Linked DNA regions of Homo sapiens: region 2 is reported to be linked to region 1. Evidence: microRNA targets listed by miRTarBase, many of them from high-throughput screens and not tested one by one. Region 1 holds a microRNA gene; the other region holds the end of a gene's coding sequence.
Evidence for each region. The annotated mature microRNA hsa-miR-554 reads GCUAGUCCUGACUCAGCCAGU and lies in region 1 at 1,424-1,444, opposite strand. An mRNA with a match to its seed (bases 2 to 7 or 8) in the 3' UTR can be bound and repressed. Matches are read on the target gene's strand: a 7mer-m8 pairs with bases 2 to 8, a 7mer-A1 pairs with bases 2 to 7 and ends in A, and an 8mer does both.

Region 1 (3,539 bases):
GCTCAGAGGAGATCCCTCCTTCTCTGGCAAAGCCCAGCATTCCCCAAATTCCTGGCAGCCTTGGTGACATCAGAAAAATGCAGTGCTCCTGAAAGTAAGAACCTGGCAATAAATGGGAGAGATGGGATGGTGTGAGGAGAAATTTATGGGCTGAGTTTAGGACAAGTTTCATGAGTAGAAGGAACAGGCAGCCACCAAACTTGAAAGGCTCCTCTGCCCAGCAGTTTTTCCCCACACTCAGATGTCACAGAACCAGGACTTCCACATTTTAGAATACATTCAGTCCTCTGGAGTAAGCAGCAATGGCTACAGATGAATCCTCCTTTAAAATGCAAATATTCTGACCCAGCAATCCCACTCCTAGGTATTCCTCTCCAAGAGAAATGAAAATATATTTCCACACAAAAACTTGTACACCAAAGTTCGTAGCAGCATTATAAATGATAGCCAAAAAGTAGAAAGAACCCAAATGTCCACCAACATTTATCCATGACGAACACAGTTGTAATACATCTAAATAATGGAATATTATTCAGCCATAAAAAGGAATGAAGTACTGATTCACATTACAACATGGATGAACCTTGAAAACATCATTCTAATAAAAGATGCCAGTCACAAAGGATCACATACCGATGATTACATTTATATTAAATATCCACAATAGGTAAATCCATAGAGAAAAAAAGTAGACTGGTGGCTGCCTAGGGCTGAGAGAGATTGGGGGGAAATGGGGAGTGACTGCTAATGGGTCAGGATTTCTTTATAAGGTAAGGAAATGTTCTAAAATTGATTTATTGATGATTGCACAACTCTGTGAATGTACTAAAAACCACTGAGTTACATACTTTAAATGGGGTATATGAATTATATCTCAATAAAGCTGTTCATAAAAAATTATATGAAGCTCATGGTAAGGCTTCAATAAATCACAATTCTAATTTAAAAAATAAAAGAGAGTGAGGCTCTGGAAAGACTTGGCATTAAACTACTTGAGCTTCTGAGGTCCTAAAGGAATGTCACCTATTCCACAGTAAAGACAAGTCTTCAGATTGCAGCTGATAAAAAAATTCCAAGTCCACCCGGGTGTTGGAGAACCTCTCTGGCCAAGACAAATCCAAAAAAAGAAAAAGAAAAAGAGAGAGAGGATGAAAAAAATGCAAATAGTTCCCAATTAATGTAGATAAATTTTAAAATGCATTAAAGTAATGGTAAAGACAATAAAAAGATGCTGTAGAAAAAAAAAAAAAAGAAAAAAATGCAAATATTCGAAAGAAAGATAAAACTGATATATTACTTAAAGAAACCAGAGCAGCAGGGGACACCAGCTGCCTTGGTCATGAGGTCTAAAAAAGAAGAGGAAAGATGCCCAGAGAGAGATGCCAAAATATGAACCCTGACCCATCACCAGTCTAAGACCAGTACTGGCTGAGTCAGGACTAGCAAAGGTTACTCAGGTCTTCACCCTGGGTCTATCTGTAGGCCTTCCTCTCACCCCTGGGACTCTCCACTGGTTGAGGGACCTGGATCATCAAGGAAACGAGAAAGAAACAGGAATAAACAAAAGTCAGCATAATGAGGAGGAGCAAACCTTGCCCAAACCAGAGAGTTCCCAGACTCTTCCTCCATCCCTTGGCTGGTTGCTTATAGGAGGTTAAAACAGTCTAGTCTAAGCCAGTAGAAATAGAAAATAATAGCTAACCTCTGAGTACTTACCACATGCCAGGCACTGTGCTTCATATTTTATGTGTATTATCTAATTTAATCCTCACAACTACCTTATGAGAAGGGTGCAATTATTATCCCAGTTTTACAAGTGAGAAAACTAAGAATGAAGAAATTAAGTAATTTGCCTAAGTGAGCTTGGGCAAAGCAGACATCAAAGCCTGATTAGAGCCCACCTTAGTCAGATTCCCAGAGCCATGCTCTTTTTTTTGTTTGTTTGAGACGGAGTTTCACTCTTGTTGCCCAGGCTGGAGTGCAATGGCGTGATCTCGGCTCACTGCAACCGCCACCTCCTGGGTACATATGATTCTCCTGCCTCAGTCTCCCAAGTAGCTGGGATTATAGGTGCGCACCACCACACCTGGCTAATTTTGTATTTTTAGTAGAGATGGGGTTTTGCCATGTTGGTCAGGCTGGTCTCGAACTCCTGATCTCAGGTGATCCACCTGCCTCAGCCTCCCAAAGTGCTGGGATTACAGACGTGAGCCACTGCACTCAGCCCAGAGCCATGCTCTTGACCACAATGCTATTAACAGAAACTAGTTTATTACATTACCAAAAATTGTAATACAATTACACTGGGAGGATGGGAAGGAAGCATGTCAGGGGTGGGAGTATAGATTTTCCTATAATTCCTACAACAGAAGTCAATAGATGTCTAAAACTGATAAATCAATTAAAATCACTGTAAGCATATTATTTAGAAACATGGAGGTAAACACAAAACAGCTCAAAGAGTAGAAAGTGGTTACTTCCATGGAGCAGAACTTGGAGCAGGGGACTGCTATTTTCTTTTAAAAGCCTTTTGATATTATTGATACTTTGATACTTTAAAATCATGCACATATGTGATTTTAAATGTCCGAGATCACGTCGTTGCACTCCAGCCTGGGCAACAAGAGTGAAACTCCTTTGATAAAAAGTGATTTAAGAGGCCAGGCACGGTGGCTCACGCCTGTAATCCCAGTACTTTGGAAGGCCGAAGCGGGCAGATCATTTGAGGTCAGGAGTTTGAGACCAGCCTGGCCAACATGATGAAACCCCATCTCTAGTAAAAGTACAAAAATTAGCTGGGCATGGTGGCCCATGCCTGTAATCCCAGCTACTCGGGAGGCTGAGGCAGGAGAATTGCTTGAACCAGGGAGATGGAGGTTGCAGTGAGCCAAGATTGTGCCACCGCACCCCAGCCTGGGTGACAGAGTGAGACTCCATCCTCCCCCTCCCACCGCCCAAAAAAAAGGTGATTTAAGGCCAGGTGCAGTGGTGCACACCTGTAATCCCAGCACTTTGAGAGGCCGAGGCAGGAAGATTACTTTAAACCAGGAGTTCAAGACTAGCCTGGGCAACATAGTGAGAACCCATATCTACGAAAAATGAAAAATTAGCTAAACATGTTGAGTATGCCTGTGGTCCCAGCTACTTGGGAGGCTGAGGTGAAAGGATCCCTTGAGTCCAGGAGTTCAAGGCTGCAGTGAGCTATGATCACACCACTGCACTCCAGCCTGGGCAACAGAGTGAGACCCTGTCTCAAAAAAAAAAAAAAAAGTGATTTAAAGAAGGATGGAAAGAAGGAAGAGAGGGAAGGAGGGAAATGAAATCAGAGATCATCCATGGTAAAGTCTAATGTCATAGACATCTGTTCTTTTGCCACGCAGCTTCCATTCCCCTCCACTGATAACAACACTTGGGTCTTTGGAGAATCTCCTTCCATCACTGTAATCTGGGGGGGGCCTATCAGTCAAGGAACCCTGTCCTGCTCTGGACAACTGGGGGCCAAGGGACAATGGTACTCTCTCCCTGGAATCTTGAGCATA
Region 2 (3,000 bases), not on the chromosome of region 1:
GCTAAAAACGTGGCTTGCTTTGAAGAATCAGCCAAAGAGGCCCCACCATCACTTGAACAGAATCAAGCTGAGAAAGCCCTGGCCAACTTCACTGCAACATCAAGCAAGTGCAGGCTCCAGCTGGGTGGTTTGGATTACCTGGATCCCGCATGTTTTACACACTCCTTTCACTGATAGCTTGACTAATGGAATGATTGGTTAAAATGTGATTTTTCTTCAGGTAACACTACAGAGTACGTGAAATGCTCAAGAATGTAGTCAGACTGACACTACTAAAGCTCCCAGCTCCTTTCATGCTCCATTTTTAACCACTTGCCTCTTTCTCCAGCAGCTGATTCCAGAACAAATCATTATGTTTCCTAACTGTGATTTGTAGATTTACTTTTTGCTGTTAGTTATAAAACTATGTGTTCAATGAAATAAAAGCACACTGCTTAGTATTCTTGAGGGACAATGCCAATAGGTATATCCTCTGGAAAAGGCTTTCATGATTTGGCATGGGACAGACGGAAATGAAATTGTCAAAATTGTTTACCATAGAAAGATGACAAAAGAAAATTTTCCACATAGGAAAATGCCATGAAAATTGCTTTTGAAAAACAACTGCATAACCTTTACACTCCTCGTCCATTTTATTAGGATTACCCAAATATAACCATTTAAAGAAAGAATGCATTCCAGAACAAATTGTTTACATAAGTTCCTATACCTTACTGACACATTGCTGATATGCAAGTAAGAAATAATGCCTCCAATTTTTTCTTAAAATAGTTTAGATATGTTAAGCATGGATTTTCCCCCTAAATTCTACTCTAAAGCTTCTATAAAATATAGTTTGGAAATAAAAATGTTCTTACACAAGGGGCAAATGAATTTCATGTGAATCCCTTTAGGATGTTTTCCTCCTTCATTTCAGCATGATAGATAATTTATTATACACCTTAGTCTTTCCTTAGTTAAAAAAAAATTCCCTAAAGACTAACTTGAAAAGAAAACCACAGCAGGATGCTAATGGAATTACTGCCTTACTGTACATACAAATTCTACTTTAATATAAACCCATAAGTTTAACTGTATTTTTGAAGACTATTTTTCTATGACTTAGGTAAAATAAAAGACTATTTTCTATTTTCCCAGTACAGCTGTTTATGTATTCAGTGGGTACAGTATTTTCTGCTGCAAGGTTATAATGTGTATTTACAGTACATAGTAGTATATAAAGTTCCCGTTTGTGGAGTAAAATGCCATACCAACCCAAAGCCCACTGTGAAATATGAAGTGAATGACAAAATTCAGTTTTCAACGCAATATAGTATAGTTTATCTGATTCTTTTGATCTCCAGGACACTTTAAACAACTGCTACCACCACCACCAACCTAGGGATTTAGGATTCTCCACAGACCAGAAATTATTTCTCCTTTGAGTTTCAGGCTCCTCTGGGACTCCTGTTCATCAATGGGTGAATCTTCCTAAAGCTACCATAAAAAGGGAGGGCGACGATTTCTAACAGCTGTTTAAAAGAGAGAGGTTTTGCTTTTGTGAGAAATCTTGGGCCACAAAAAAATTTTAAGCAAAGCCAGGAGTTAGTGTCTCTCTGAAGTAAATTCAATTGCAAAATCTTGGCAGAGGCAGAAATGGCTCATATCAGAAGTGTCCAAATAAAAGTTCTGGGAAACTAGGTATTTGCTTCCCAGAGCAATGGGAATAGCTCCAAAGGTCAGAGTAAGGTAATGAGAATCTCCCGGTCAATTCCAGTGCCAGGCTTCCTGAAAGAAGTCAAAGCTTGGATCCTCATTTTAAAGGGCGCATCCATGACTCATCTAGCAGCCCCTCTCTATTTTTCCCTTCACTTGATGGTAAATCCATTCTATATGTCCATTTACTAGCTGGACATAGAGAACTTGAGCTCACCTCTGGGAGTTAAATATTCCACCCCAACTATCCCATATTGATAGCAACTGGACTCAGAGGTCCCCCTCCTGTTTGAAAGTGAACACATTGCCAATGTTTTGAGAATGGCAAAAGCAATAGATACGAAGCTCCATTTTTCTAATATATAAACAATATCATGTGAGTAAGGGAAGCGTGTGGGAAAGTTGTCCAAGCTCATTCAGTCCCCTAAATCCTCGATACTTTAACTGTCTGAGAACCAACTGCATAGGCATCACCTGGGCAGTGTTTGAAAATTCCATTTGCAGAATCTTAAGCATCAGAATCTGCATTTTACTAAGATCCCCAAATGATTCAATTGCACACTGAAGTTTGAGAAGCATTGTTCTAGACAACCATTTCCACTAAAGGTTATTTTAGTTCATAGTAACAATCCTCTTTTGGAAAGGACAGATCAAGTCTGTTTGACTTGCAATGAACAACACTGCATGTAAGCAGGCAAAAAAAGAAACATATCAGTAGTTTAAGATTCACATTATGCTGAATCTTATATGAATTCACATAAAAGAATGACCTGCAAAACTACGCACAACTTCTGAAAGGCCAAGGAATATAATCTACCTTGAGAGACATTAACCAAAGACAGTCACCCTCAAAGCCAATGCAGACTAAATCTTTCCTAACATAGTCTATTCTCTAAGAATAGAGAAGATATGTATCAGTCACTCTTATAGTCTGAAAACCTAAACATAAAAGTAATCTGCTTTTGACATATAATTTTGTATAATACGTATGAAAAAATGTGACAGCTAAGGACTTGAATTAAATCCCTAAAAAACAATTAGCCACTCATTAGGCCAAGACTTTAATTCTATGATCAATTAGCACTGTTTATCTGAATTAAGCTTTTTTGTGGTCTAACAAAAAGTTTTTTTGTGGTCTATCAAGGAGACAGCTGTTCAAATGGAAGGATACATGTGGGGCAGGGGGGCGGTGAAGAGACCTAGATTCTGGTCCTAACTGCTTTGCCTTGGAGAGATTAATTCCCCCCTCTAAGCCTCAGTTTCCTCTGAAGATGTTGGACCAGATAACCTCTAAGGTCCTTTGAA

Region 2: the mRNA of PRLR is a reported target of hsa-miR-554. The part of its 3' UTR that is shown has no 7-base or 8-base seed match.

Annotation. Positions count from the first base shown.
Region 1 is chr1:151,543,716-151,547,254 of GRCh38, reverse strand. It overlaps MIR554 (microRNA 554), which reads right to left and starts at 1,459; the gene lies at 1,364-1,459. All of the region lies in intron 1 of TUFT1 (tuftelin 1), which reads right to left. RefSeq lists an enhancer at 1-327.
Region 2 is chr5:35,062,263-35,065,262 of GRCh38, reverse strand. It overlaps PRLR (prolactin receptor), which reads left to right. Exons shown (of 10, transcript NM_000949.7): 10 at 1-3,000. The coding sequence ends at 174. Among named protein-coding and RNA genes, the nearest start is that of AGXT2, 16 kb to the right of the region's middle.